Linked DNA regions of Homo sapiens: region 2 is linked to region 1. The links come from fine-mapping of genetic effects on gene expression. A gene starts in region 1. The other region holds a variant in brackets. All regions are shown on one strand. Distances are from middle to middle. Region 1 holds the start of UPRT (uracil phosphoribosyltransferase homolog). Region 2 overlaps NEXMIF (neurite extension and migration factor).

What was found. PIP is the estimated chance that this variant, and not a neighbour inherited with it, causes the effect.
Region 2: its variant is the best candidate, but not a certain one, in a credible set for the expression of UPRT in prefrontal cortex (GTEx, PIP 0.59).

Annotation. Positions count from the first base shown.
Region 1 is chrX:75,266,717-75,283,579 of GRCh38, reverse strand. It overlaps UPRT (uracil phosphoribosyltransferase homolog), which reads right to left and starts at 9,495. Exons shown (of 7, transcript NM_145052.4): 1 at 8,940-9,495. The coding sequence starts at 9,325. LOC124905200 (a long non-coding RNA gene) reads left to right here and starts at 9,544. Exons shown (of 4, transcript XR_007068269.1): 1 at 9,544-10,102. RefSeq lists enhancers at 9,115-9,324, 9,485-9,534, 9,555-9,604.
Region 2 is chrX:74,778,131-74,794,993 of GRCh38, reverse strand. The region is part of intron 1 of NEXMIF (neurite extension and migration factor); the gene reads left to right. Among named protein-coding and RNA genes, the nearest start is that of NEXMIF, 140 kb to the left of the region's middle. RefSeq lists an enhancer at 15,433-15,512. The variant C/T (reference allele first, on the strand shown) is at 7,608.

The DNA of each region.
Region 1 (16,863 bases):
AAGAATTTTGTGTGCAGCAAAACTAAGCATCATACATGAAGGAAAAATATAGCCTTTTTCAGACAAAGGCTAAGAGAATTCACCATTATCAAGCCACCACTACAAAAACCACTAAAAGGAGCTCTAATTCTTGAAACAAATCCTGGAAACACATCAAAACAGAAACTCTTTAAAGCATAAATCATGCAGGACCTATATAACAAAAATACAGGTAAAAGGCCAAAACTAAAAACAAAAAAAAACAGTACATAGACAACAAAGAGCACAATCAATGCAACAGAACCTCACATTTCAATACTAACATTGAATGTAAATGGCCTAAATGCTCCACTTAAAAGATACAAAACCGCAGAATGGATAAGAACTCACCAACCAATTATCTGCTGCCTTCAGGAGACTCACCTAACACATGAGGACTCACACAAACGTAAGGTAAAGAAGTGGAAAGAGACACTTCATGCAAATGGACACCAAAACCGAGCTGGAGTAGCTGTTGTTATATCAGAAGAAACAAACTTGAAAGCAACAGCAGTTAACAAAGACAAAGAGGGACATTATATAATGGTGAAAAGCCTTGTCCAATGGAAAACTATCACAATCTTAAACATATATGCACCTAACATAGGACCTCCCAAATTTATAAAACAATTACTAACAGACCTAAGAAATGAGTTAGACAACAACACAATAACAGTGGGGGACTTCAGTACTCCACTGACAGCACTAGACAGGTCATCAAGACAGAAGGTCAACAAAGAAACAATGGATTTAAACTATACCTCGGAACAAATTGACTTAACAGATACATACAGAACATTTCGTCCAACAACTGCAGAATACATATTCTATTCAACAGTGCATGGAACTTTCTCCAAGACATACCATATGATAGGCCATAAAACAAGCCTGAATAAATTTAAGAAAACTGAAATTATATCAAGCACTCTCTCAGACCGCAGTGGAATAAAACTGGAAATCAACTCCAAAAGTAACCTTCAAAATCATGCAAATACATGAAATTAAATAACCTGTTCCTGAATGATCACTGGGTCAAAAACAAAATCAAGATGGAAATTTAAAAATTCTTCAAACTGAATGACACATACCTCCCAAATAATGACACAACCTCCCAAAACCTCTGGCATACAGCAAAGGCAGTGCTAAGAGGGAAGTTCACAGCCCTAAACACCTACATCAAAAAGACTGAAAGAACACAAACTGACATTCTAAGGTCACACCTCAAGGAACTAGAGAAACAAGAACAAACCAAACCCAAATCCAGCAGAAGAAAGGAAATAACCAAGATCAGAGCAGAACTAAGTGAAATTGAAGCAAAAAAAAAAATATAAGATAAATGAAACAAAAAGCTGGTTCTTTGAAAAGATAAATTAAATTAATAGACTATTAGCAAGATTAACCAAGAAGAGAGAAAATCCAAATGACCTCACTAAGAAATGAAACAGGAGATATTACAACTGACACCAGAGAAATACAAAAGATCATTCAAGGCTACTATGAACACCCTTACACACATAAACTAGAAAACCCAGAAGAGATGGATAAATTCCTGAAAAAAATACAACCCTCCTTGCTTAAATCAGGAAAAATTTGATACCCTGAACAGACCAATAACAACCAGCAAGACTGAAATGGTAATTTAAAAATTACCAACAAAAAAAAAGTCCAGGATCAGATAGATTCACAGAAGACTTCTATGAGACATTCAAAGAAGAATTGAAAACATTCCTTTTGACACTATTCCACAAGACAGAGAAAGAGGGAATGCTCCCTAATTCATTCTATGAAGCCAGCATCACCCTGATAGCAAAACCAGGGAAGGATATGACCAAAAAAGAAAACTACAGACTGATATCCTTGATGAACATAGATGCTAAAATCCTTAACAAAATACTAGCTAACCAATTCCAACAGCACATCAAAAAGATAATCCACCATGATCAAGTGGGTTTCATATCAGGGATGCAGGGATGGTTTAATGTATGCAAGTCAATAAATGTGACACACCACATAAACAGAATTAAAAACAAACATCACAGGATCATCTCAATAGATGCAGAAAAAGCATTCAACAAAATGCAGCATACCTCCATGATTAAAACTCTCAGCAAAATCAGCATAGAAAGGACACAACTTAATGTAATAAAAGCCATCTATGACAAACCCACAGACAACATAATACTAAATGGGGAAAAGTTCAAAGCATTCACTCTAAGAACTGGAACAAGACAAGGATGCCACCCTCACCATTCCTCTTCAACATAGTACTGGAGGTCCTAGCCAGAGCAATCAGACAAGAGAAAGAAATAAGGGGCATCCAAATTGATAAAGTGGAAGTCAGACTGTCACTGTTTGCTGAGGATATGATCTTTTACCTTGAAAACCCTAAAGGCTCCTCCAGAAAGCTCCTAGAACTGATAAAAGAATTCAGCAGTTTCTGGATACAAGATTAATGTACACAAATCAGTAGCTCTTCTATACACAAACAGTACCCAAGCTGAGAATCAAATCAAGAACTCAACCCTCTACAATAGCTGCCAAAAAAAATAAAATCCTTAGGAATTTACCTAAGGAGTTGAAAGACCTCTACAAGTAAAACTTCAAAACACTGCTGAAAGAAATAATAGATGACACAAATGAATGGAAACACATCCCATGCTCATGGATGGGTAGAGTCAATATTGTGAAAATGATCATACTGCCAAAAGCAATCTACAAATTCAATGCAATTCCCATCAAAATACCACCATCATTCTTCACAGAATTAGAAAAAACAATTCTAAAATTCATATGGAACCACAAAAGACCCCACACAGCCAAAGCAAGACTAAGCAGAAAGAACAAACCTGGAAGTGTCACACTACCTGATTTCAAACTATACTATAAGGCCACAGTCATCAAAACAGCATGGCACTGGTACAAAAATAGGCACAAAGACCAATGGAACAGAACAGAGAACTCAGAAATAAACCCAAATACTTATAGCCAACTGATCTTCGACAAAGCAAACAAAAATATGAAGTGGGGAAAGGACACCCTTTTCAACTAATGTTGCTGGGATAATTGGCTAACCACATGTAGGAGAATGAAACTGGATCCTCATCTCTCACCTTATACAAAAATCAACTCAAGATGGATTAAGGGCTGAAATCTAAGACCTGAAACTATAAAAATTCTAGAAGATAACTTTGGCTTACATACATTGGCTTAGCCAAAGATTTCATGACCAGGAACACAAAAGCAAATGCAATAAAAACAAAGATAAATAGCTGGGACTTAATTAAACTAAAGAGCTTTTGCACAGCAAAAGAAACAGTCAGCAGAGTAAACAGACAACCCATATAGTGGGAGAAAATCTTCACAATCTATACATCTGACAAAGGACTAATATCCAGAATCTACGAGGAACTCAAACAAATCAGCAAGAAAAAAAAAAACAAACAATCCCATCAAAAAGTGGGCTAAGGACATGAATAGACAATTCTCAAAAGAAGATATACAAATGGCCAACAAATATATATATATGATGGAATACATATCAAATATATATATATGATGGAATACTAGTCAGCCATTAAAAAAATGAATTAACAGCATTTGCAGTGACCTGGATGAGATTAGAGATTACTATTCTAAGTGATGTAACTCATGAATGGAAAACTAAACATCATATGTTCTCACTAGTATGTGGCAGCTAAGCTATGAGGATGCAAAGATATAAGAATAATATAATGGACTTTAGCAACTTGGGAGGAAAGGGTGGGAGGGGGTCAAGGGATAAAAGACTACAAATATGATGCAGTGTATACTGCTTGGGTGATGGGTGCACCAAAATCTCATAAATCACCACTAAAGAACTTACTCATGTAATCAAATACCACCTGTACCCCAATAACTTATGGAAAAAAATAAATAAGTGAAACCTGAAAGCTTTAAAAAAATAAAACAAATGTTGAAATTATTGCAAAAAAATGGGACAGAAAAACAAGGGAAACTATCATTTTATCTGATTACAATTGCTACATTAATTATCCTTTGTGTCAGGGACTGTGCCAGGTCAGACCCCCTTTCTGCCTCCTTGGAGTCCAGTCTAGTTAGGTATACCAGGATATGCCCAGTAAATGTTATAACAGAGGTCCGTATAGCTTAGTGGTGACTTCCTCCTTCCTGCTCTAAAAGTCAGAGGACTCACACGGGAAACACACAAAAACCGAAAATATGTCCATGTTTTAAACAATTTGCACGTCACAGTTTTTTTCTGCGGTGGGCATTTTGGTTTTGTGCAAGCTGGAAGGAAATGTTGGGAGATTCCTCCAGTGTTGATGTAATGCTAGGTCAGGCTCTCTAGCCTAGTTCTGTTTAGTGTGTGGAATCCCTGGATCACCATATCTATAGCCCGAATCAGCAGGCTAGCAAATCAGCACACAAGGGAGACTGGCCATTCTCCCAGGGGCAATGGCCCAGTCTAAACACAGCACAATTACCTGTGGTCAGGTTTTACTCAAGACTATACAAACAACTGCTAAGGATGGGAGTCAGGAACTTGTATTTTAAAAAAAGAGAGAGAGACTCCACAGGCAATTCTGATGCACACAGCTTTGGTTAAGGACAATACATTACTTAGTCACATAACTCAAATCACATTAGATTGCACTCACATTAGGGTTACACAGGATGTTCATTCACCCTAAGGATAATTTTCTCCCCTCCAGGTGACTAAAGAGAGTCACAAGGCTGAATGTGCTCCTTTTTTTGTCCTATGTCACATACTGACATACTCTAACATTGCTAAACTTTTAAACAAGCAGCTTGCTGAGGCCATGCCAAAGCCCCACCTAGGACAAATACACAGGAAGCATTCAACAGCTCACACAACAGCTTTAATGTTTCAGGAAACAAAAAATAAAAAACAAAAAACTGGACAGGGAGGATGATCTTTTAAATACACTGCATTGCCTTTAAATATGAGGTCATGAACTATATTCACAGGAAAAGCACATTACTCAGATTTTGCTGAGTTTAGTATATAAAGGAGGCAGAAGAGAAGGATGTGTGGTTTAATCCATTGCAACAACAACAAAACGACATAAATGAAGAAATTTTTTCTTATCCCAAGTTCACCAGCAACCCACATACGTATGGCTGAGCAAATAATCTACTCAGTGTTTACTGCACTTTCAAAGAGAGAAATTTATTTCCTTGAAATTCAATAATACAACCAACATATTATGTTTCAAATATTGCACATTTCAAAATCTAAAAAGACATTTTAAATCAATACAGACAATGTTCTCAATCTTGCCTGTTTCACATATATACAACAACATGCAGTCCTGCTGGCTCAATCCCGATTTCCCCATACCAAAGTCAATTCACAAAGCAATCCCTTCACTATATAGATGCTAAGGACCAGAAACAATAAAAGAAAAAATATGTACTCCAGTGGCTTCTATTATCGGACAGTTCCACAGTGCACATTTATGCTGTCACATCAAAATAGAGAAGAGAATAAGCCCCAAAGAGAACAGGGTATGATAACTGATGGCACCTTCCATAACTAGACCTATGTAAATATAGCTCCTCTTACCATAGGCACCTTAAACCAGCCTCCTAGAGGGGCTAAAACAGGTCTTGTGAGAGAGGATGACAATTTTTTAAAGATAAAGGGAATATAAAGCCTCTAATTTGGTTAACAAAAACAAAACTAAAAACAATGTCCCCAGCCTAAATAAGCAGCAATACATTACTAAAAATTGTGGTGGGTCTTTCCATACTATATCAAAACAAGATAAAAATTATCTACAATATCCCAGTATTCATTTTCAAGATAAAAAAGTGAATTCCACATAGAGTTAAATTCATTTTACTGTCTTCTGACAAATCAAGAAGACAGCACTTATGAATGCAATTAGAAGCATGCACAAATCCAAACATGAGGCTTGAAATTCCTTAAATGTGAACAGCTCTTCACAGTTCATAATGAATATTCATGAACAGTATCTTGTTTTAGCCTCCCAGGGGCTCCATGTGATATTTACCAACATCTTCATTTTACAAATGATAAAGGTGAAGCACAGAGATGCTAAACATATTGCCTAAATCACTTCTCTGGATCCTGCTGTCTCCTTCCAAACTTAGAGGAAAAAAAAAAAAGGATTCCACTTACACCCAGGTTTACTACATAACCCAGGTTTTTCTGACTAATGACATATAATCAGGTATTATTTTGTCATATGTGAATGCTAAATGCCATTCCCTCTCCAAGCGCTATAGCAAGGGCACTTCACCTTTACATTATCATGACACTTTGTGAAATCTAAAAAACTAAGGAATCCTCACCCTCTAAAAAAAAAGGCACATATGTGAATGTTCATAGCAGCATTATTCATAATAGCCAAAGAGTGGTAAACCACCCAAATGTTCACCAACTGATGGATAAACAAATTGTGGTATATTCATATAATGGAGTATCATTTAATCATAAAAAGGAAAGATCCCACACGGATGAACCTTGAAAACATGCTAAATGAAATGAGTCACAAAATGACCACATATTGTATGATAATGAAATGTCCAGAATAGACATTTTTTATATGTAATGTGCAGAATGGGCAAACCATTAGAAATAGAAAGTAGATTAATGATTGTCTAGGGCTTTGGGTGGGTTGGGTGAAAATGGGGAGTGACTGTTTAATGGGCATGAGGTTTCTTGCTGGGGTGATGACAAATGTTCTAAAACTGTGGTGATGAATGCACAGCTGTGAACATACTTAAAACCACTGAATTATACACTTTAAATTCTTGAACTGTATGGTCTGTGAATTATATCTCAATAAAGATGTTATTTAAAAACAACTATTAAAAATCTTCATATGAGTAAAATTTCCCAGTTAATTTATGAGGGTTTGTTAAAGCCCTGAACCCATCTACTGGTACGAGGGAGTCGAAGACCCAAGCGTAGTAACTTCTGCTCTATAGAAACAAGAATCATCATCTATTTTTCTTTGTTGTATATGTAAGATTTATTTTGGCTGCCCCTACCCTACCACAACTACAGCAAACCTATGCCTCCTATTTTTTAGGATCACTATTTTGTCTATTAGATAACATAACCACAGTAGTTTTCAATATTGATTCATTAAAAAGAGTAAAATAGTATAGTTTCATAAATATAATTTTAAGAGCTACAAAAAAACTCTAGTAATTGAGCATCTATTATTTGCAAGGCATGGCCGGCATTCAAAAATGTAAAAGATTTCTGCCTTCAAGATGTCATAGGCAGGATAAGATCTATACAAAAATAACAATATACGAAAAAGAAGGTGAATCTTGCATTAAAAAGACCAGGGAAGATAAGCCAGGAATAATGATTAAAGGGAAGCTTCTTGGCAGAGGTGGACAATTATTTAATGCTGTGTTTCACCCTGAAGAATAAGTATCCTGAACGTACATAAAGGAGACACAGGGAATTCCAGATGAGAGCAGAAACAGATATGTTTCAGAATTGTTCCTAGGAACTATGAAGAAGGGCCTTCATCCCAAGCTAAGGGGGCCAGGCATGGTGGCTCACACCTGTAATCCCAACATTTTAGGAGGCCGAGGCACGAGGATTGCTTGAGGCCAGGAGTTCAAGACCATCGTGGACAATATAGCAAGACCTCCATCTCTACAAAAAAATAAAAAATTAGCCGGGGGGCAGTGCCATGTCCCTGTAGTCCCAGCTACTCAGGAGGCTAAGGCAGGAGGATTACTTGAGCCCAGAAGTATGAGGGTACAGTAAGCTGTGATCTCACCACTGCACTCCAGCCTGGGTGACAGAGAAAGATCCTGTCTCAAAAATATCAATCAAGCTAAGGATCCTGGACTTTATTTGGTAGGCTCTGAGAAGCCAAAGAAGGTTGCTGAGTAGGGCAATTACTGAATCAAAGATGTATGTTATGAAGATTGATTGTACAGTAATGTATGGGTGCATGTGGAAGAGAGGAAAAACTGCAAGCAGAGAAACAGTATTATTACAATAGTGTAAGACAAGGTTTCTAGAGTCTGGTTTAGGGAGTGGCATCTGTCATTCAGTAGCCATTTTTAAAAGATCAAGGCATGTCCCCCCAACCCCTGCCACTAAAAAAGGGGTGTTTTGATATGCTGCTCATTTAAAGTGCTGCCAATAAAGAAAATAGCTGTAGTTCATCATGGTACATATTTCCCTGGAGAAAACCCATTTACAACGTAGGTTTAGAAATTTCAAAATTACATTTTAACATGAAGTTCTGGCTACATTGGTTTGTGGGATTAGGAAGGGCCAAAGGCTCCTTTAGGCTCCCTTTGATCCATTAACTATGTTCTGTGAGTTTACAGTGAAAAATGATAAGAGTTGGACGATAAGCTTTCATGTGATCAAGTAAACCTGAACTCCAAGACTAAAAGACCTTGTTTGCAGTAGCAAATACTAAAGGGTCAGGGCCTGAATAGAATTTCCTTGAAATTGCTTTATTTCTATTTATGAACCTGAGGTGATTGGTGGTAGTGCATAACCTTGGATAGTAACCATTTCTGGGTTATAGGTTTACCATGTGGACAAGCACTGCCCACATAGTATAGGGGAGTTTACCTGCCTGGAATGGCCAAGGAGTTGTCTTTCCTGGGAGAGACAAAGAGCCCAGAGGCTACCTAAAGTCTTCCTCCCCACCCAAAGTGATGTTAGACACCGGAACTTGGAAAGAGAAGGTTGGCGTTCGAGTTACACGACACACACACACACACACACACACACACACACACACACACACCAAATAAAAGGTCTTACCCCAATCTCCAAAGTTTGCCAAGGCCAAGAACACTGTCTCTTAGCCCTTTTACTTCCAATCCCCGCCCACAGCCTGCAAGACCCTCCACTTCCCTTTCCCCTTCCGCTCTTGGCTTACTTGTCACGGATGATGGTCTGTAGCTCCCGTATCTGATCATTCATAGGCAGCAGCTTAAGCTGCGCCCCGATCTGCCGGGAGAGTTCGCAGTCCTCTAGGAAGGAGTTGCCAGCTGGTGCGTCATAGCTGCTACTGTCACCACTACCACTGTTGCCCTCTGAGTTGAGGCTGGAGCCGCCGCAGGCCCCAGAGTCCAGCTCGGCCGGCAGGCTAGAATGGGCGTACCCCGTGAGGAGAATCACCTTGGCCCTGGAGGCTCTGTTTCCCCCTGCGTGGTCCAGGATCAGATCGCCAGGTCGCAGCTGCTCGGGACTTGGGGTTGAGGCAGAGTTTACTTGCTGGTTGTGACAGGGCATGGAGTCCGGACACTGTAACTCCGTGGCCATACACCGGGCCCCGGGCTATCCCCGCTGCTACTGAACACTAAAGATAAAGAGGAACGGGTAGAAAGGACAGATGCTCACGTGCTCTCTCGGTTGCTCCCGCCTCCTCAGAACATCTAACCCTGGCTGTCCTTTCACCCCTAGGCCGCTGTTGGTTTCCTTTAGCACACTTTGGCTCACTCCCGCCCACACCAGACGTACTGCCTGCCTAGACACCCTATTGGCTGCACTCCCCGCCACTCTGCGGCGCCACTGCTTGTTAACCCTTTGAGTCACCCTTGCTACGTGGGTTCCCACAGGTAGCTAAGCCCCCGCAGCGAGGCCAAGGATGCCAGCTTGAAGGATCTTCCGGGGGCCCCTGGGGCTTCTGCATTCAGAACTTTGGGTGATTAGTAGAGCCAGGAAAAACTGGGGGTGGCAGGTGATGATACACAGTTACACACGTAAGGCCCATGTTTTCAGACTTTGTGACCTAGCAGAGAAATTATATCTCAGTAACCGCATCTTCAGTTAGCTTGTCTGCATAACAGAAGGAAGAAGTAAAAAAATGCCTAGCAGGCTGCTGAAGAGGCTGTCCTCTACTAGACTGTTCTAGAAACTGCAGCTTCCCAAGTATGCTTGACCGCCAAAGCTTTTCTTATCTTTATTGGTTGGGCCCCACAGTGTACACGTTGTCATGGGGACTCAGGCGGCATTTCAGATCCACTATCATTTTGAATCTTTAAAGTACTTGGAAAGACGCTTATTTTTAAGTGTATGGACTCACTATAACGGCCTGAGGTAAGAGTGTCTAGGGCAGTACTTTTCAAACATCAGTATGTACCACAATAATTGTAGAGCTTGTTAAAATGCAGGTTCTTACGGCTCATTTTTGAGATTGTGATTCTGTAGATCCGAGATGGGATACAAGAATCTTTTTTTTTTTTTAACTTTTAAGTTCAGGGATATATGTGCAGGTTTGTTACATAGGTTAACTTCTGTCATGGGGGCTTGTTGTAAAGATTATTTCATCGCCCAGGTATTAAGCCTAGTACCCACTAGTTGTCTTTCCTGATCCTCTCCCTTCTCACACCATGCACTCTGCAGTAGGCTCCAGTGTGTGTTGTTCCCCACTATGTGTCCATGTGTTCTCATCATTTAGCTCCCACTTATAAGTGAGAACATGCAGCATTTGGTTTTCTGTTCTTGTGTTAGTTTGCTAAGGATAATAGGCTCCAGCTCCATCCATGTCCCTGCAAAGGACATGATCTCATTATTTTTTATGGTTGCATAGTATTCCATGGTGTATATGTACCACATTTTCTTTATCCATTCTATCATTAATGGGTAGTTAGGTTGATTCCATGTCTTTGTTATTGTAAATAGTGCTGGAGTTAACATATGTGTGCATGTGTCTTTAATAAAACAATAATTTATGTTCCTTTGGGTATATACCCAGTAATGGGATTGCTGAGTTGAATGGTATTTCTGTCCTTCCTTTTTTTAACATGCCTATACAGATTTTTTTATAATTTTTTTTTTATTTCCATAGGTTATTGGGGAACAGGTGCTGTTTGGTTAGATGAGTAAGTTCTTTAGTGGTGATTTGAGAGATTTTGGTGCATCCATCACTCGAGCAGTATACACTGTACCCTATTTGTAGTCTTTTATCTCTCAAGCCCTTCCCACCCTTTTCCTCCAAGACCCCAAAGTTCATTGTATCATTCATATGCCTTTGTATCCATCATAGCTAAGCTCCCACTTATGAGTGAGAACATACAATGTTTGGTTTTCCATTCCTGAGTTACTTCACTTAGAATATTAGTCTCCAATCTCATCCAGGTCGCTGCAAAAGCCATTAATTCATTCCTTTTTATGGCTGAGTAGTATTCCATATATATATACATATATATATATACACATATATATATGTGTATATATATATATACATATATATGTATATATACACATATATATACACATATATATGTGTATATATATATATATCTCACAGCTTCTTTATCCACTCATTGATTGATGGACATTTGGGTTGGTTCCACGTTTTTGCAATTGCGAATTATGCTGCTATAAACATGCGTGTGCAACTATCTTTTCTGTATAATGACTTCTTTTCCTCTGGGTAGATACCCAGTAATGGGATTGCTGGATGAAATGGTAGTTCTACTTTTAGTTCTTTAAGGAATCTCCACACTGTTTCCATTAGTTGACATTCCTACCAGCAGTGTAGCAGTGTTCCCTGTTTGCCACATCCATGCCAACATCTACTATTTTTTAATTTCTTTGATTATGGCCATTCTTGCAAGAGTAAGGTGGTATTAAATTGTGGTTTTAATTTGCATCTCTCTGATAATTAGTGATGTTGAGCATTTTTTAATACATTTCTTGGCCATTTGTATATCTTCTTTTGAGAATTGTCTATTCATGTCCTTAGCCCACTTTTTGATGGGATTGTTTGTTTTTGTCTTTCTGATTTGAGTTCCTCGTACATCCTGGATATTAGTCCTTTGTCAGATGTATAGATTGTGAAGATTTTCTCCCACTGTATGGGTTGTCTGTTTACTCTGCTGACTGTTCCTTTTGCTGTGCAAAAGCTCTTTAGTTTAATTAAGTCCCAGCTATTTATCTTTGTTTTTATTGCATTTGCTTTTGTGTTCCTGGTCATGAAATCTTTGGCTAAGCCAATGTCTATAAGGGTTTTTCCAAAGTTATCTTCTAGAATTTTTATAGTTTCAGGTCTTAGATTTCAGTCCTTAATCCATCTTGAGTTGATTTTTGTATGAGGTGAGAGATGAGGATCCAGTTTCATTCTCCTACATGTGGTTAGCCAATTATTCCAGCACCATTAGTTGAAAAGGGTGTCCTCTCCCCACTTTATATTTTTGTTTGCTTTGTCGAAGATCAGTTGGCTGTATTTGGATTTATTTCTGATTTTGTGTTTTGTTCCATTGGTCTGTGGGTATATTTTAATACCAGTACCATGCTGTATTCGTAACTATTGCCTTATAGCATAGTTTGAAACCAGGTAATATGATGCCTCCAGATTTATTCTTTTTGGCTATATGGGCTATTTTGCTTCAATATGAATTTTAGAATTGTTTTTTCTAATTCTGTGAAGAATGATATTAGTATTTTGATGAGAATTGCATTGAATGTGTAGATTGCTTTTGGCATTATGATCCTGTTCACAATATTGATTCTACTCGTCCATGACATGGGTTATGTTTCCATTTGTTTGTGTCGTCTATGATTACTTTCAGAAGTGTTTTGAATTTTCCTTGTAGAGGTCTTTCACCTTCTTGTTTAGATATATTCCTAAGGATTTTTTTTTCACATAAAGTGTTTATTTTTTCCTTATTATACTTTAAGTTCTGGGGTATTTGTGCAAAACGTCCAGATTTGTTACATAGGTATACATGTGCCATGGAGGTTTTCTGCACCCATCAACCCATCGCCTACATTACGTAGTTTTCCTAATGCTATCCCTCCCCTAGCATCCCAACCCTGAAAGACCACAGCATGTGATGTTCCCCTCCGTGTATCTATGTGTTCTCATTGTTCAACTCACACTTATGAGTGAGAATATGAGGTGTTTGGTTTTCTGTTCTTGTGTTAGTTTGCTGAGAATGATGGTTCCCAGCTTCATCCATGTCCCTGCAAAAGACATGAACTCATCCTGTTTTTATAGCTGCATGGTAATCCATGGTATCTATGTGCCACATTTTCTTTATCCAGTCTAAAATTGATGGGCACTTGGGTTGGTTCCAAGTCTTTGCTATTGTGAATAGTGATACAATAAACACATGTGTGCCTGTGTCTTTATAGTAGAATGATTTATAATCCTTTGGGTATATACCCAGTAATGGAATTGCTGGGTCAAATGGTATTTCTGGTTCTAGATCCTTAAGGAATCCCCACACTATCTTCCACAATGGTTGAACTAATTTACACTCCGACCAACAGTGTAAAAGCGTTGCTATTTCTCCACATCCTCTCCAGCATCCGTTGTTTCCTGACTTTTTAATGATCACCATTCTAATTGGCGTGCGATGGTATGTTATTGTGGTTTCAATTTGAATTTCTCTAATGACCAGTGATGATGAGCTTTTTTTCATATGTTCGTTGGCTGCATAAATGTTTTCTTTGGAGAAGTGTCTGTTCATATCCTTCACCCACTTTTTGATGGGGCTGTTTGTTTTTTTCTTGTAAATTTATTTACGTTTTTATAGATTCTGGATATTAGCCCTTTGTCAGATGGGTAGATTGCAAAAATTTTCTCCCATTCTGTAGGTTGCCTTTTCACCCTTATGATAGTTTCTTTTGCTGTGCAGAAGCTCTGTTGTATAATTAGATCTCATTTGTCCATTTTGGCTTTTGCTGCCATTGCTTTTGCTGTTTTAGTCATGAAGTCTTTGACCATGCCTATGTCCTGAATGGTATTGCCTAGGTTTTCTTTTAGGGTTTTTATGATTTTAGGTCTTGTGTTTAAGTCTTTAATCCATCTTGAGTTACTTTTTGTATAAAGTGTTAGAAAGGGGTCCAGTTTCAGTTTTCTGCATATGGCTAGCCTGTTTTCCCAACACCATTTATTAAATAGGAAATCATTTTCCCATTGCTTGTTTTTGTCAGATTTGTCAAAAATCAGATGGTTGTAGATGTATGGTGTTATTTCTGAGGCCTCTGTTCTGTTCCATTGGACTGTATATCTGTTTTGGTACCAGTACCATGCTGTTTTGGCTACTGTAGCCTGGTAGTAGAGTTTGAAGTCAGGTAGCATGATGTCTCCAGTATTGTTCTTTTTGCTTAGGATTTTCTTGGCAATGTGGGCTCTTTTTTGGTTCCATATGAAATGTAAAGTAGATTTTCCAGTTCTGTGAAGAAAGTCAGTGGTAGCTTGATGGGAATAGCATTGAATCTATAAATTCATTTGGGCAGTATGGCCATTTTCACGATATTGGTTCTTCCTATCCATAAGCATGGAATGTTTTTCCATTTGTTCGTGTTCTCTCTTATTTCCTTGAGCAGTGGTTTCTAGTTCGCCTTGAAGAGGTCCTTCACACCCCTTGTAAGTTTTATTCCTAGGTATTTTATTCTCTTTGTAGCAATTGTGAATAGGAGTTCACTCATTATTTGGTTCTCTGTCTGTTATTGGTGTATAGGAATGCTAGTGATTGTTGCACAGTGATTTTGTATCCTGAGACTTTGCTGAAGTTGCTTATCAGCTTAAGGAGATTTTGGGCTGAGATAATGGGGTTTTCTAAATGTACAAACATGTCATCTGCAGACGGAGACAATTTGACTTCCTCTGTTCCTATTTGAATACCCTTTATTTCTTTCTCTTGCCTGATTGCCCTGGCCAGAACTTCCAATACTATGTTGAATAGGAGTGGTGAGAGAGGCCATCCTTGTCTTGTGCTGGTTTTCAAAGGGAATGCTTCCAGCATTTGCCCATTCAGTATGATATTGGTTGTGGGTTTGTCATAAATAGCTCTTATTATATTGACATACATTCCATCAATACCTAGTTTATTGAGAGTTTTTAGCATGAAGGGCTGTTGAATTTTATCAAAGGCCTTCCCTGCATCTGTTGAGATAATCATGTGGTTTTTGTCATTGGTTCTGTTTATCTGATGAGTTACATTTATTGATTTGCATATGTTGAACCAGCCTTGCATCCCAGGGATGAAGCCAACTTGATCGTGACAGACAAGCTTTTTGATGTGCTGCTGGATTTGGTTTGCTAGTATTTTATTGAGGATTTTCACCTTGATGTTCATCAGGGGTATTGGCCTGAAATTTTCTGTTTTTGTTGTGTCTCTGCCAGGTTGTGGTACCAGGATGATGCTGGCATCATATAATGAATTAGGGAGGAATTCCTCTTTTTCTATTGTTTGGAATAGTTTCAAACGGAATGGTACAAGCTCCTCCTTGTACCTCTGGTAGATTTTGGCTGTGAATCTGTCTGGTCCTGGACTTTTTTTTGTTGGTAGGCTATTAATTACTGCCTCAATTTCATAATTTGCTATTGCTATATTCAGGGATTAGACTTCTTCCTGGGTTAGACTTGGGAAGGTGTATCTGTCCAGGAATTTATTCATTTCTTCTAGATTTTCTAGATTATTTAGGTAGAGGTGTTTATAGTTTTCACTGATGGTCATTTGTATTTCTGTGGGACCAGTTGTGATATACCCTTTATCATTTTTTATTGTGTCTATTTTATTCTTCTCTCTTTTCTTCTTTATTAGTCTGGCTAGCGGTCTAATTTGTTGATCTTTTCGAAAAACCAGCTCCTGGATTCATTGATTTTTTTTGAGGGTTTTTTGTGTCTCTATCTCCTTCAGTATTGCTCTGATCTTAGTTATTTCTTGTCTTCTGCTAGCATTTAAATTTGTTTGCACTTTCTTCTCCAGTTCTTTTAATTGTGATGTTAGCATGTTGATTTTGGATCTTTCCTGCTTTCTCTTGTGGGCATTTAGTGCTATAAATTTCCCTCTAAACAATGCTCTAAATGTGTCCCAAAGATTCTGCTATGTTGTGTCTTTGTTCTCATTGGTTTCAAAGAAAATCTTTATTCCTACCTTAATTTCGTTATTTACCCAGTAGTCATTCAGGAGGAGGTTGTTCAGTTTCCATGTAGTTGTGCAGTTTTGAGTGAGCTTCTAAGTCTGGAGTTATTTTTCTTTTTTTTATACTTTAAGTTCTAGGGTACATGTGCACAACGTGCAGGTTTGTTACGTATGTATACATGTACCATATTGGTGTGCTGCACCCATTAACTCGTCATTTACATTAGGTATATCTCCTAATGCTATCCCTCCCACCTTCACACACCCCACGACAGGCCTTGAACTGTGATATTCCCCTTCCCATGTCCAAGTGTTCTCATTGTTCAATTCCCACCTATGAGTGACAACATATGATGTTTGGTTTTGTGTCCTTGTGATAGTTTGCTGAGAATGATGGTTTCCAGCTTCATCCGTGTCCCTACAAAGGTCATGAGCTCATCCTTTTTTATGGCTGCATAGAATATGTGCAACATTTTCTTAATCCAATCTATCACTGATGGACATTTCGGTTGGTTCCAAGGCTTTGTTATTGTGAATAGTGCCTCAATAAACATACATGCGCATGTGTCTTTATAGCAGCATGATTTATAATCCTTTGGGTATATACCCAGTAATTGGATGGCTGGGTCAAATGGTATATCTAGTTCTAGATCCTTGACGAATCGCCATACTGTCTTCCACAATGATTGAACCAGTTTACAGTCCCACCAACAGTGTAAAAGTGTTCCTATTTCTCCACATCCTCTCCAGAACCTGTTATTTCCTGACTTTTTAATGATCGCCATTCTAACTGGTGTGAGATGGTATCTCACTGTGGCTTTGATTTGCATTTCTCTGATGGCTAGGGATGATGAGCATTTTTTCATGTGTCTGTTGGCTGCATAAATGTCTTCTTTTGAGAAGTGTCTGTTCATATTCTTCACCCACTTTTTGATGGGGTTGTTTTTTTAATTCTAAATGTGTTTCGGTTATTTGTAG
Region 2 (16,863 bases), 490 kb after region 1:
GCCAAGATGGCCGAATAGGAACAGCTCCAGTCTACAGCTCCCAGCGTGAGCAACACAGAAGACGGTGATTTCTGCATTTCCATCTGAGGTACCAGGTTCATCTCACTAGGGAGTGCCAGACAGTGGGCGTAGGTCAGTGGGTGCGCGCACTGTGCATGAGCCAAAGCAGGGCGAGGCATTGCCTCACTTGGGAAGCGCAAGGGGTCAGGGAGTTCCCTTTCCGAGTCAAAGAAAGGGGTGACGGACGGCACCTGGAAAATCGGGCCACTCCCACCCGAATATGGCGCTTTTCCGACGGGCTTAAAAAAAGGCGCACCACGAGATTATATCCCGCACCTGGCTTGGAGGGTCCTATGCCCACAGAGTCTCGCTGATTGCTAGCACAGCAGTCCGAGATCAAACTGCAAGGCAGCAGCGAGGCTGGGGGAGGGGCGCTCGCCATTGCCCAGGCTTGATAAGGTAAACAAAGCAGCCGGGAAGCTCGAACTGGGTGGAGCCCACCACAGCTCAAGGAGGCCTGCCTGCCTCTGTAGGCTCCACCTCTGGGGGCAGGGCACAGACAAACAAAAAGACAGCAGTAACCTCTGCAGACTTAAATGTCCCTGTCTGACAGCTTTGAAGAGAGCAGTGGTTCTCCCAGCACGCAGCTGGAGATCTGAGAACGGGCAGACTGCCTCCTCAAGTGGGTCCCTGACCCCTGACCCCCGAGCAGCCTAACTGGGAGGCACCCCCCAGCAGGGGCAGACTGACACCTCACACGGCAGGGTATTCCAACAGACCTGCAGCTGAGGGTACTGTCTGTTAGAAGGAAAACTAATAAACAGAAAGGACATCCAAACCAAAAACCCATCTGTACATCACCATCATCAAAGACCAAAAGTAGATAAAACCACAAAGATGGGGAAAAAACAGAACAGAAAAACTGGAAACTCTAAAATGCAGAGCGCCTCTCCTCCTCCAAAGGAACGCAGTTCCTCACCAGCAACGAAACAAAGCTGGGTGGAGAATGACTTTGACGAGCTGAGAGAAGAAGGCTTCAGACGATCAAATTACTCTGAGCTACGGGAGGACATTCAAACCAAAGGCAAAGAAGTTGAAAACTTTGAAAAAAATTTAGAAGAATGTATAACTAGAATAACCAATACAGAGAAGTGCTTAAAGGAGCTGATGGAGCTGAAAACCAAGGCTCGAGAACTACGTGAAGAATGCAGAAGCCTCAGGAGCCGATGCGATCAACTGGAAGAAAGGGTATCAGCAATGGAAGATGAAATGAATGAAATGAAGCGAGAAGGGAAGTTTAGAGAAAAAAGAATAAAAAGAAATAAGCAAAGCCTCCAAGAAATATGGGACTATGTGAAAAGACCAAATCTACGTCTGATTGGTGTACCTGAAAGTGACGGGGAGAATGGAACCAAGTTGGAAAACACTCTGCAGGATATTCTCCAGGAGAACTTCCCCAATCTAGCAAGGCAGTCCAACCTTCAGATTCAGGAAATACAGAGAACACCCCAGAGATACTCCTCGAGAAGAGCAACTCCAAGACACATAATTGTCAGATTCACCAAAGTTGAAATGAAGGAAAAAATGTTAAGGGCAGCCAGAGAGAAAGGTCGGGTTACCCTCAAAGGGAAGCCCATCAGACTAACAGCGGATCTCTCGGCAGAAACCCTACAAGCCAGAAGAGAGTGGGGGCCAATATTCAACATGCTTAAAGAAAAGAATTTTCAACCCAGAATTTCATATCCAGCCAAACTAAGCTTCATAAGTGAAGGAGAAATTAAATACTTTACAGACAAGCAAATGCTGAGAGATTTTGTCACCACCAGGCCTGCCCTAAAAGAGCTCCTGAAGGAAGCACTAAACATGGAAAGGAACAACCGGAACCAGCCGCTGCAAAATCATGCCAAAATGTAAAGACCATCAAGACTAGGAAGAAACTGCATCAACTAACGAGCAAAATAACCAGCTAACATCATAATGACAGGATCAAATTCACACATAACAATATTAACTTTAAACGTAAATGGACTAAATGCTCCAATTAAAAGACACAGACTGGCAAATTGGATAAAGAGTCAAGACCCATCAGTGTACTGTATTCAGGAAACCCATCTCACGTGCAGAGACACACATAGGCTCAAAATAAAAGGATGGAGGAAGATCTACCAAGCAAATGGAAAACAAAAAAAGGCAGGGGTTGCAATCCTAGTCTCTGATAAAACAGACTTTAAACCAACAAAGATCAAAAGAGACAAAGAAGGCCATTACATAATGGTAAAGGGATCAATTCAACAAGAAGAGCTAACTATCCTAAATATATATGCACCCAATACAGGAGCACCCAGATTCATAAAGCAAGTCCTGAGTGACCTACAAAGAGACTTAGACTCCCACACATTAATAATGGGAGACTTTAACACCCCACTGTCAACATTAGACAGATCAACGAGACAGAAAGTCAACAAGGATACCCAGGAATTGAACTCAGCTGTGCACCAAGCAGACCTAATAGACATCTACAGAACTCTCCACCCCAAATCAACAGAATATACATTTTTTTCAGCACCACGCCACACCTATTCCAAAATTGACCACATACTTGGAAGTAAAGCTCTCCTCAGCAAATGTAAAAGAACAGAAATTATAACAAACTATCTCTCAGACCACAGTGCAATCAAACTAGAACTCAGGATTAAGAATCTCACTCAAAACCGCTCAACTGCATGGAAACTGAACAACCTGCTCCTGAATGACTACTGGGTACATAACGAAATGAAGGCAGAAATAAAGATGTTCTTTGAAACCAATGAGAACAAAGACACAACATACCAGAATCTCTGGGACGCATTCAAAGCAGTGTGTAGGGGGAAATTTATAGCACTAAATGCCCACAAGAGAAAGCAGGAAAGATCCAAAATTGACACCCTAACATCACAATTAAAAGAACTAGAAAAGCAAGAGCAAACACATTCAAAAGCTAGCAGAAGGCAAGAAATAACTAAGATCAGAGCAGAACTGAAGGAAATAGAGACACAAACAACCCTTCAAAAAAATCAGTGAATCCAGGAGCTGGTTTTTTGAAAGGATCAACAAAATTGATAGACCGCTATCAAGACTAATAAAGAAAAAAAGAAGAATCTAATAGACGCAATAAAAAATGATAAAGGGGATATCACCACTGATCCCACAGAAATACAAACTACCATCAGAGAATACTAAAAACACCTCTATGCAAATAAACTAGAAAATCTAGAAGAAATGGATAAATTCCTCGTCACATACACTCTCCCAAGACTAAACCAGGAAGAAGTTGAATCTCTGAATAGACCAATAACAGGATCTGAAATTGTGGCAATAATCAATAGCTTACCAACCAAAAAGAGTCCAGGACCAGATGGATTCACAGCCGAATTCTACCAGAGGTACAAGGATTAGCTGGTACCATTCCTTCTGAAACTATTCCAATCAATAGAAAAAGAGGGAATCCTCCCTAACTCATTTTATGAGGCCAGCATCATTCTGATACCAAAGCCAGGCAGAGACACAACAAAAAAAGAGAATTTTAGACCACTATCCTTGATGAACATTGATGCAAAAATCCTCAATAAAATACTGGCAAACCGAATCCAGCAGCACATCAAAAAGCTTATCCAGCATGATCAAGTGGGCTTCATCCCTGGGATGCAAGGCTGGTTCAATATACACAAATCAATAAATGTAATCCAGCACATAAACAGAGCCAAAGACAAAAACCACATGATTATCTCAATAGATGCAGAAAAAGCCTTTGACAAAATTCAACAACCATTCACGCTAAAAACTCTCAATAAATTAGGTATTGATGGGACGTATTTCAAAATAATAAGAGCTATCTATGACAAACCCACAGCCAATATCATACTGAATGGGCAAAAACTGGAAGCATTCCCTTTGAAAACTGGCACAAGACAGGGATGCCGTCTCTCACCACTCCTATTCAACATAGTGTTGGAAGTTCTGGCCAGGGCAATTAGGCAGGAGAAGGAGATAAAGGGTATTCAATTAGGAAAAGAGGAACTCAAATTGTCCCTGTTTGCAGACGACATGATTGTATATCTAGAAAACCCCATTGTCTCAGCCCAAAATCTCCTTAAGCTGATAAGCAACTTCAGCAAAGTCTCAGGATACAAAATCAATGTACAAAAATCACAAGCATTCTTATACACCAACAACAGACAAACAGAGAGCCAAATCAGGAGTGAACTCCCATTCGCAATTGCTTCAAAGAGAATAAAATACCTAGGAATCCAACTTACAAGGGATGTGAAGGACCTCTTCAAGGAGAACTACAAACTACTGCTCAATGAAATAAAAGAGGATACAAACAAATGGAAGAACATTCCATGCTCATGGGTAGGAAGAATCAGTATTGTGAAAATGGCCATACTGCCCAAGGTAATTTACAGATTCAATGCCATCCCCATCAAGCTACCAATGACTTTCTTCACAGAATTGGAAAAAACTACTTTAAAGTTCATATGGAACCAAAAAAGAGCCCGCATCGCCAAGTCAATCCTAAGCCAAAAGAACAAAGCTGGAGGCATCACACTACCTGACTTCAAACTGTACTACAAGGCTACAGTAACCAAAACATCATGGTACTGTTACCAAAACAGAGATATAGATCAATGGAACAGAACAGAGCCCTCAGAAATAACGCCGCATATCTACAACTATCTGATCTTTGACAAACCTGAGAAAAACAAGCAATGGGGAAAGGATTCCCTATTTAATAAATGGTGCTGGGAAAACTGACTAGCCATATGTAGAAAGCTGAAACTGGATCCCTTCCTTACACCTTATACAAAAATCAATTCAAGATGGATTAAAGAGTTAAACGTTAGACCTAAAACCATAAAAACCCTAGAAGAAAACCTAGGCATTACCATTCAGGACACAGGCATGGGCAAGGACTTCATGTCTAAAACACCAAAAGCAATGGCAACAAAAGCCAAAATTGACAAATGGGATCTAATTCAACTAAAGAGCTTCTGCACAGCAAAAGAAACTACCATCAGAGTGAACAGGCAACCCACAAAATGGGAGAAAATTTTCGCAACCTACTCATCTGACAAAGGGCTAATATCCAGAATCTACAATGAACTCAAACAAATTTACAAGGAAAAAACAAACAACCCCATCAAAAAGTGGGCGAAGGACATGAACAGACACTTCTCAAAAGAAGACATTTATGCAGCCAAAAAACACATGAAAAAATGCTCATCATCACTGGCCATCAGAGAAATGTAAATCAAAACCACAATGAGATACCATCTCACACCAGTTAGAATGGCAATCATTAAAAAGTCAGGAAACAACAGGTGCTGGAGAGGATGTGGAGAAATAGGAACAGTTTTATACTGTTGGTGGGACTGTAAACTAGTTCAACCATTGTGGAAGTCAGTGTGGCAATTCCTCAGGGATCTAGAACTGGAAATACCATTTGACCCAGCCATCCCATTACTGGATATATACCCAAAGGACTATAAATCATGCTGCTATAAAGACACATGCACACATATGTTTATTGCAGCATTATTCACAATAGCAAAGACTTGGAACCAACCCAAATGTCCAACAATGATAGACTGGATTAAGAAAATGTGGCACATATACACCATGGAATACTATGCAGCCATAAAAAATGATGAGTTCATGTCCTTTGTAGGGACATGGATGAAATTGGAAAACATCATTCTCAGTAAACTATCACAAGAACAAAAAACCAAACACCGCATATTCTCACTCATAGGTGGGAATTGAACAATGAGAACACATGGACACAGGAAGGGGAATATCACACTGGGGACTGTGGTGGGGTGGGGGGAGGGGGAGGGATAGCATTGGGAGATATACCTAATGCTAGATGATGAGTTAGTGGGTGCAGTGCACCAGCATGGCATATGTATACATATGTAACTAACCTGCACAATGTGCACATGTACCCTAAAACTTAAAAGTATAATAAAAAATAAAAATAAATAAATAAATAAATAAATAAAAGAATATCAATGGGATGTCTTCTTCTCCTACCTGGAAGATGAAGTTTCTGCAAATGACCATTAGATGGCGGGGTACTTGCTGGCACTCTGAGCTGGAAGTCTGGGAGATTGTGGGAGACTGAAAATTATATCACTCTACCCCCTTCCCTTTTCTTGGCAAAGGGATATTCTAGCCACACTCAGGAAATAAAATACCTGATTTATGACTCCTGGCATGTACCTTTATACTGCTTCAGGAAGTTAGGCTTGGGTTTCATGTTGGCAAGTATCCCAACAGCTAAATTTGTGTAATGGTAAACTTTAGGTTAGATAATGAGTTTTGACCTGAAATGGGGTAAGCAACATCATGTCATGTTTGTGCCCCTTGCTGACCTCATTGCAAAGTAAAGGAAGCATAGAACCTTGATTCCTGGGTTCTAATGCCAGCCATCTATTGTCCCAACTCTCTTGGCCTCATATTCATCATCTTTAAAATAAGGATAATACCTGCCCATTCATGCTCACAGGGCTGTTGTCAGAGATCAACCTAAGATACATAATGTGAAATATATTGAAGGACTTTATAAGTTTAACATCATACAAATATGAATGATTATTAATGATCAAACCAAATAGAATATGAAATACTATTGATATTAGGTGGCATCATACATTAATAAATCTGACTTAAAAATACAATCTGTTTACCTTGATCAGGAGAGGTAGATATTTAGTCTCTGAAGTGATGCAGTATTTTCCTCAGAACTTAGTGGGTGGGTAATTTATTATTATCTACTTGTTTAATTTTTGGTGTAGCAGTTACAGAAAATACTTGATTCCAGATTGAACGATTTTATAGGGTAATTCCTCACCCTCATAAAATCCACATTATTTCAATTTACCAAGTAAATACTGGCACATTCAGTAGATGTTACTATTTTGGGTTCCAACTGGTACTCATGATTGACTCTGGTGCTCTGGATCCAGATCCTTTGGTATGTACCAGGGGACAGCAAACCTCAGTTATAGAGGTGGCTTTACCTTTACCCTAGAAATCATCTGCAGTTGCTCTGGTTCAAAGCTTAAAGGAAGGTTTGAGGAGTGTACTTTCAAGGTTTGAGGAGTGTACTCTCTCTTCCCAGCAGTGCAGAAACCAATAATCATCAAAACATTGTCACCATAACTGTTGTCAGGTTTTTTTCAACCTTGCCCTTGCATCTCAGCACAGCTCTCTCGCCCAAAGAGGTAAGCTGGGGAAAACAGAATCTACTCATTGTAATCTTTTCAGCTTATTTATCTGCATTTAGAAAGTCTCAACCCTCTGGGCTCCCCTGCCTGTCAGAGTCAAAAAGAAAGGCCCCATGTGTATGTGTGGGCCTGTATGTAAGAAGTAAGGCTTGAAGGCATCCTTGGCATCTGTCATGTGACACATGCAATGGTTTGTAATAGAGTCAGGGAATCATAGGATATGACCTGAGGTGGGAGGTCCAGTTTCTACCCTTCATTTTACAATTGGGGAAACTGAAACCCAGACCAAAAAGTAACAACTAATTAGCTATGTAGGTCTTGCTTTATTATTACTGGTCA[C/T]GGAGAGTGCATCTTAACAGTAGCCAAAGAAGGTATTGATCAAGTAGAGAAGGGACACTGTCATTCCCATAGCTTCAATCTTTTTTTTTTTTCTTTTTTCTTTTGAGATGGAATCTCGCTCTGTCGCCCAGACTGGAGTACAGTGGCGTGATCTTGGCTCACCACAACCTCCGCCTCCTGGGTTCACGCCATTCTCCTGCCTCAGCCTCCCGAGTAGCTGGGACTACAGGCACCCACCACCACGCCTGGCTAATTTTTTTTCTTTTTTTTTTTTTTTTTTTTGTATTTTTGGTAGAGACAGGGTTTCACCATGTTAGCCAGGATGGTCTCGATCTCCTGACCTCGTGATCTGCCCGCCTCAGCCTCCCAAAATGCTGGGATTACAGGCGTGAGCCACTGTGCCCGGCCCATAGCTTCAATCTTTATTTTTCTCCAGTGGAAGGGGCTTAGCCTAACTGAAAACAGTTGATGTAATTTAGGGCATGGGAGGGACTAGTGATAGGGGTGTGTGTGTGTGTGTGCACACACGCACATGCACATGTGCTCACGTGTGTGTGTGTGTGTGTGTGTACAACCTTGTTTTCAGTTATCTACTTCTCTTTGGCCTCTAAATTCTACATATTTTCCCCTTCTCCTGTCAGAATCATTTAGTCAATATGTGCCTTTTTGAGTTTGTAAGTGGAGGCTAGGTTAAAGAGTGTCCTTAGTTTAGGAATGTCATGTGCTCATTTGGCTAGGTGTGTGGTGATTGTGTGTGGGGGAATGTGCTGGATTCAGAATAGTAATAGTTGCTTAAAACTGGAACTTTTTAATGAGGGAGAATGGTCTACCTTTTTTCTTGCAGAGCTCAGTTTTATTAATGTGATATGCTGTGTGCTAGTCTGTGCCAGAAAGTATCTCTGTAGGTAATTGATCTGCCTCTTCTTCCTTTCTCTTTAGATATTCCCTTCCATGTATGATAAAAACCAATCTTGGTGTGTTTATCTCTTTTTTAAGCACTTTATCAAGGGTTTTTTCCAGCTCTTGAAAAGACAACTTGTATACCCACCCTCCACACTACACTGTACAACCAACCCAACATTCTCTGCATAGACAATCAGTCTTCTTTTCTGTGTGATATAAATCTATGAAAACTCCCACACATTATAGTACAACTGGACTTGCTGATTCCAAACCCTGAGCAGAAAAACCCTCTAGGAAGCCATTGCCAAGGATAAGATTGATTGCTACACTGGCAGGTGCCTGCCCATTTCCCTCGCTCAGTGGAAAATCTGGCCCACCATGACAAAAAATAGCTCATCCCAGGGCCTTAAAACCCACCGAATGAGATTTTAGTGTTGGGGATAAAAGCAAGGCTGTAGACTAACTCATTCATTTGCTTTAGTGTTCTCTATAAAATATAAAACATATATTTCATAAACACCAAATTTCATGAAAGCAGATTTATTTCATAAGTTTTGTCTATTACCTTATCTAAGCACAGTCTCTTCCTCCACCATTCTCAGGACATATGGCTTAGTCAGACAGACTACACAGATGAATGCAGAGTGTTGAGTGACAAAGCCAGCCCTTTAGGCGTTTGGAGCACAGCAAGGTTATGTTGGCAAGGCCAGGTCAGACAAGGCTATAAACTTTGCCTTTCATCTTTACCCTAATAATGCCACTGAACAAACCCAACCAGGATCTTTCTCAAATCCATGTGTACAGTTTTTATTTGTCAGAGACTAAGCAGAATGCCTGGGGGAAGGCATGCATAATAGAACTAATCATTCTTTAAAGTGTAATTTTCCTTGCCTATGCATTCTTGTAGAGTTTCAGTAGAGCCCTTGACACCCTAAGATAGAAGTGAACTATGCAAAGGGGGAATGAGTGGAGATAACTTGAAAAAAAATTTTTTTTTTAGTTTTACATCCTCCTTTTTTTCATATGGACTTTAGACATAAACAGTTAATGTCTGTCAGAGCTAAAAGGTACCTCTGATACCATTTTATCTACCCCTTAACCACAAAAAAAGATTATATAGGGAGCAGTTCAGTATAGTAGAAAGAACATGGGATTTGGAAAGAACTGAATTCTACTTCCAGCTCAAGCCATTTGATCTCAGTTTCTTTATATGTAAAATGGAGGTGGTAATCCTCATAATGACATTGTAAAGCAATGTACTGGTGGCCCCCAATACTATCCCCAGGTTCACTGATTTGCTAGAAGGACTCACAGGACTCATAAATTGTTACAATCAGGCTACAGTTTATTATATCAAAAGGACAGAAAGCAGAATCAATAATGGGAAAACGTACATCAGTCAGAGACCGGAGGATACCAGGTGCAAGCTTCCAAGAGTCTTCTCCCAATAGAGTCACACAGGTTGTGCTTAATCCTCCAACAATGAAGTTCAGAAACATATGCAAAGTGTTTTCTGCCGGGGAAGCGTACTTGAGCCTGAAACTCCAGGATTTTTATTGGGGTAACTAGTGACTGAAACTCCATATCCCTTGGAAAGAAAGCATGCATTCACCATAAATCATATTTTTTGCACAAGATACCTAGACAGGCTGTTACAGCATGGTTGAAAGGGCATACACAATGCCCTTACCAGTTACTAGAATAGAGAACATTCTAAGACCTCAGTTCCCAGGAGCTGGCCAAGGACCAGTCACACAAGTGGGCCCTTCTAAAAATGTATACGATTTGAGCAACTCAAGACTGCTGGGTTAACTCTTTCTTTCACAGATAGGTATTAAATTATTGTATGTGTGTATATATATATATATATAAAATATTGCATATACATACACACAGTATAAAGCAGTACATTAAATGTGAGGGATTATTATACATATGAGTAAAGAGAGCTAGAGCTATTCTGGGGTGTGATTAAGTGCAGTAAGAATGGAAGTATCTAAGACAACTCTCCAGGGCAATGAATGGGGAAGCTGTAAACAATCCCACTGAGGATTTTATTTTTCTCTATGATTAGAGATAATTTCGTCACCACTACCATTCTGTCCCTCATCAGTTTCACATTGTACTTTCTTATCATAGCTATATATTTCTTGGGATTTTTGCATAAGCCAAATTGTTTCACTACGCACTGTGGAGTTTTGGCAAGGATGTGATCCTCTTAAGGAAAGTGCAGAATTGAGCCTTTGCAGAAGGCATAGGCAGGTGCTTCCTAGAAAACCCTGAGCAAGTCCCAATGAAAGACTATGGTTAATTATACTATAATCGTGGTAACTAATACCAACAGTGAATTTTAGTCTGAATTGAATTGAAGTGAATTTATGTGAACCTAAATACTATTGAAATACGATTTTGAGCTAAATACTGCACTAGATGCCCAGCCTAGCCCAATCATTTTATAAAAATTTGCCCTCTAAGGATGACGGAAATGACTATAGAAAGGAAGCTCAGGCATTGTATGCTAGGATGTGGAGGGGAACATCCTGAGGAAGTGCACATACTCATACCTAAAACTACTGAAAGCATTTGCCAAGGGTAGCCTGTACTGCCTGAACTCAGGTGGTAATGGCACCAAGTAGACTGGAGAACAGCTTGAGAAAGTGGGCATATCTTACAGATGGACAATAAACCTCCTGATGGAACTTTGGTAATGGAGTATTTGTTAATAGCATTTTAGCTGCTGTAAGCCTCTTTGTCTGCTTTATACCCCCAGAGCTGCTGTAGCTCTCCCCAAACTCATGAATGGGGCCTAAGGCAGCTGCCTTTATTCTGCATGTAAGCTAGAGCTGGCTCATTTGTCTACCTGGTATGTTCTTTTACCCTTTACGTTGGAGCCATGTCAATGGTTCTCCTCAAATTGACCCTCTGCTGCCAGACTTTATTGAGCCCTATCTGAGACTTTTTCTGAGCCCTCTGCTCCAGGTGGCCCTAAAAACTTCATATACAATGTAATGTAGGCTCTTTAATGTGCTAGCAGAAAATGACAGAGATTAAATGGTGGCCCTGCCATCAAGGGAACTCATTGCTTCTTTTGAAATAAAGTATTTGGCAGGTTTTGCCTAGAATTGAGGGATGGAATCACTCCTTTCCCTACCTTATCTTTTCTTAAAACAGCTCCTACATTTCACCCCATTTAAAATACTAGCCCTTGCATTTGTATCACATTCTATACTTTTCTAACACTTTCTTATTTATTATTTTATTCTTACATATTTTCATTCATGCTCCGAGGCCAAGCTCAGATGCTATTTTCTACAGAGAGATTAATTTTAACTTCCTCTGACCTCTTAAGGAACTTTCCATGATGCTCTCGTGGTTTTTAACCATTTTTCCTATTTTTATTCTAATTATTTATATATATATCATTTATTAGACTCTAAGATCCTCAATGGCAAGATCTAGATAGGATTCATCAACAACTTACATATAGCAGGCAAGCAATGAATAATAAAGATGAAATAGAATAGAAAACAAACAAATGCTTGAAGCTTAGATAACTGCCTCTCATTTACTCTAATTACTGGAAGGCCTAGAACTTGAATCTTCTTCTAGTCCTGTACTGCTATCTTAAATTCTCCACCACACTGCCTCCCTTACCCAGGCCAGATAGCATTTACTCTTCAGAAGGAAGGAAATTAGCTAAGTCTCTAATAATCAGGAAAGGCTTTAAGGAGGAGGTAGACCTTGACAAATGAGTATAATGTTACTAAGTGAAATGCAGAGCGAAGGGTATTCCAGAATTAGCAGTGAAAGCACATAAAGAGGGTGGGAGGAAGAACATGGTCTGTAGAGTAATGAGGCCAAGCCTAAGAACCAGGGCAGCAAGAATTGTTTGGGGCAAGTCTTGAAAACCATACAGAAATGTTGGAATGTGTTGTAGCAGGAAGTAAGGGCCCCATACAGAAGGCCTTATATGAAGGAAGGGTCTGTAGTAGGGAGGACTTAGGGCTTTCTGGTCTACTGGCTCTTTTGGAAGTTTGAAATCATGGCAGGGACCTAAGACCCTGAACCTCCTGCCTCTTGATTTGGTCAACTCTGAATGTGAAGTATATTTTATTAAGATATTCTAACTTGCTCACTAGCATTTAATGTTAGTTGCCAAATTTCCAAACCTGAGCTCAAAGGGAACTCTCTTACAAGTTTGAAAGCATTTCAGAACTCTTTTTCATGGTAATAAGGATTTTGCCTGGCCTAGAAGAAGCTGCCAACTCCAGAGGTCTCTCTGGCACTCTAACTCAGAGAAGTTTAAAGTAAATGTAGCTCCTGAGAGAGAGTATGAGTCCTTAAACCACCAACCCCTCATCCTTTTAAATCTCTGGGTTTATCCTCTGGGAAACACTGTCATTCAGCTACTGTTTTGTTCAGGTCTCTCAAGTTCTTGCCTACCATCCAGCCCTTCAGATGTCTGTGTCATCTGGTTAGTTCCCTATATTGTGAGGACTTAACAAATTTTCAGTCAGTCATTCAGTCAGTCAGTTCCTGTCTTGTCCTCCAGAATATCAAATATTGAAAAACCACTGGCCTCAACTAAACTGAGCTACACCACACCCTGGTAAAAGGGAAAATCTTAGTATAAATTTCACATACACCTAAGGCTTTCACATACATTTCACATACACATAAACCACTGGCCTCCACTAAACTGAGCTACACCACATCCTGGTAAGAGGGAAAATCTTAGTATAAATTTCACATACACCTAAGGCTTTCACATACACATAAATCACTGGCCTCCACTAAACTGAACTACACCACACCCTGGTAAGAGGGAAAATCTTAGTATACATTTCACATACACCTAAGGCTTTCACATACATTTCACATACACATAAACCACTGGCCTCCACGAAACTGAGCTACACCACACCCTGGTAAGAGGGAAAATCTTAGTATAAATTTCACATACACCTAAGGCTTTCACATACACCTAAGGCTTCACATACACCTAAGGAAACCTAAGGCTTCCCTCTTGTTCTTTCTCCCTCTTCTCCTCCTTCACCTCTCCCTCCACTCTTCCTCTGATCTCTCTTTTTCAAACGTTATGGTTTGTTGTTCCATACCAACTGCACATTTGGCAATAGACAAAAATACAAAACTCCTGCCCTCATCGATTTATGCCACTAACCTGATTCAGTTCTCTCTAAAGGAGATCGTAGCAACCTCTCTCAATATTCATTTCCAGCTAACATTCTCTTACTATTTCTCCGGAGAGCAGTGAAACTTTATCAAAGTCTACTTTGTAACGATGCCAAAAGCTGGCCTCTGAAAGCTAAAAGGAGAAGAGCTAGAATGTGGTAAGTGGGAGCTGGGCCCTAGCAACAGAACTGTGGGAGGCAGTGTGGAATAATGGAAGGACCATAGGTCTGAAGACCTCATTTTGGACTTAACAGTTGCCCAGGCTTTCTATATTCTCACACATTTATGTACCTTTAGGGTAAGGATAATCACTCATATTTGTCTCATCTGACAGTACCTATCACACAGCTCATGTTCAGGTGAGTCCCCAGGGCCCCCACTGTGCTGTACTCTCCCTTCCCTGCCCAACTTCTCTGCACCTTGGATTCATGTCTTGTTTCTACCACTTCCTAGCCTTGAGGCTTTGGTAGGTTTCTTAACTTCTCTGACTGAGTTTGTTTCATCTTCCCTAGAAGAGATAATACATGCTTCATAGCTTTGTTGTACAGATCAAATAAAATAACAGATATGAAATATTTTATAGCCTATAAGGTGCTGTGAAAATTTTAAGATGGGGCTAGGCGCAGTGGCTCATGCCTGTAATCACAGCACTTTGGGAGGCCACAGCGGGCCGATTGCCTGAGCTCAGGAGTTAGAGACCAGTCTGGGCAACATAGCGAAACCCCATCTCTAGAGAAAATACAAAAAAAAAAAAATTAGCCAGGCATGGTGGCACACGCCTGTAGTCCCGGGAGGGACTGAGGCAGGAGGATTGCTTGAGCCCAGGAGGTAAAGCCCAGTGAGCCATATTCATGCCACTGCACTCCAGCCTGGGTGACAGAGCCAGACCCCATCTCTAAGAAAAAAAAAAAAAAACAGTAAGATGGTTTTATCAGATTAGTCAACAAATGTCAAAAGGCACACAATTTTTATTACATCCATGAACCATGCCTCCAACTAGATCATGTGGTATATAGAGTTCCAGGCCTATTTATAGACCCACATTTGCTTAGGTTCAGTTCATCTGAACACTGATTAAAGTTAACATTAGGAAAGACAAAAACCTAACCTTTATCTGTGTTTGATACAAAGACCAGTAGCAATTACATCACTTGAATGTGGTTAGATTTTATTTTCCTTTGGTATTTTGGTGAAGTTCCCAAACGAATGCCCAGGAATAATTACAGCAGACTGGCTTTGGCGGAGGAAGTATATAAAGGCAATTAGTAAAATGTAACAAACTTAAATGATAATTGAACCTACATTCCCCCAGCCATTTCCAAGTATAAACTATATAAATCTGTGTCCCAGATTCACCAAATGAAATATTTTTGAGGGAATCAAGCAGCAAGGATCTAGTGATCCCTTATTGCAGCCCAGCTATGTGTTTAGGGGCAGGGTATGGTGGTAGATGTAAAATCCTAAAAGCCTGCTTTCCAGGAGCTCATATTCTGGTTGGGTCTACAAAACAGAAAAATTAAGTCTTTTGTTAGAAGAAATGAAACAATCTAAGACAAAATAGCATCAGGTGTCAAATAGTGTGGAGCAAAAGGCATTCAGAAAAGTAGAGGTCAAGGTGGGCTGGGCCTTTCAGCTTAAGAAAGACAGAGGAAGAAGGCAGGGAGATCTTGCCTATGTTGGGAAAGTAAGGGCAGGAGCCTCTGAGTTGGAAAGAACATGTCAGGTGTTGTGCATGGTGCCACGTAAGACTGCTGAGGTATGATAGAGCCAGATTATAGATGTCCCTGAAGGCCTGGCAAAGGAGACTTGACTGTATATAGTAAGCAGTGGTGACTCATTGTGAGTTCTTGAGCCAGGAGACTGCTGAAAAAGTAGTGTGTTAAAAAGCAGCATGCAGGGTGAATTAGAACAGAGACAGACACCTACTACCAGAAACCCATTTGTTAGCTTCCATTGTAAGATGTGGTCGTAGTCATGGAAGAGGATGATTGAAAACAAGATATGGCCAAAGAAAAGAGAACAATAAGAACACTGGGGCTTAGAAGGTCAGATTACGTCTTACTCAATCAGTCAGAACTCTGGCATCATAGGTGATTTTAGTGAAAAACATATCTATTTGTTGGAAACAAATTTTTAACTTTAAATGGTTAGCTTATAGGCTTAAGATATAAGTTCCCAGAGATGAATTGGTGAATGGCGTCTGAACTTGACCTATTTGCAGCAGCAAGAATGTGCAAGAATCTTCTCCAGGCTTTCTCAGAGCTGGAGGACCCAGCATTTGTGTTAATGTGACTGGGTTAAAATGAAAGCCTTTGTTGTCTCTGAAAAGAAATTGAGGAAGTACTGTTAAAAGATGATGAGATCAGCCGGGCACAGTGGCTCATGCCTGTAATCCCAGCACTTTGGGAGGCTGAGGTGGGCGGATCATTTAAGGTCAGGGGTTCAAAACCAGCCTGGCCAACATGGTGAAACCCCAGCTGGATGTGGTGGCATGCACCTGTAATCCCAGCTACTCTGGAGGTTGAGGCAGGAGAATCACTTGAACCCGGGAGGCAGAGGTTGCAGTGAGACAAAATGTAATGTAAGGTAAAAGTGAGACAAAAATGTCTATTGTGACCTGAACATATTGGCCTATAATGATGGTAAAGCTGTGTCACTCTGAGAAAGTTACTTAAACTCTCTGAGAAGCTTTAGAGCTTCTCATTTATAATATAGTAATGCTAATTCCTACCTGCTTCACAGGGTTTTTGTAAGGGTTAAATGTATATCAACATAAAGTTTCTAGCACACAGCAGGTAATTGCACCACTGCACTCCAGCCTGGGCGAGAGAGCGAGATGAAAGAAAAAAGAAAAGAAGGAAGGAAGGGAGGAAGGGAGAAAGGGAGATGAGATCCATGGAGGAAGGAAAGGAGACTTTATTTTCAGAGGAGATACAATCTGTAGATCCGGGAGTGCAGCTTCAGTACAAGCCCCACAGAAGGGGCAAGGAGCTGGGGTCAGCCATCCATACATAATTGAGTTAGGTTGGGAAAAATCTATGAATATTTATAAGAGGAATCAGGCACCATGCACAGTGGGTAAACATGTATGTAGCATGCATTTCATGTTCACTTTGGGGTGAGGTTTTAGTATTAAAATGAGGTGGAATTTGGCTCTTTA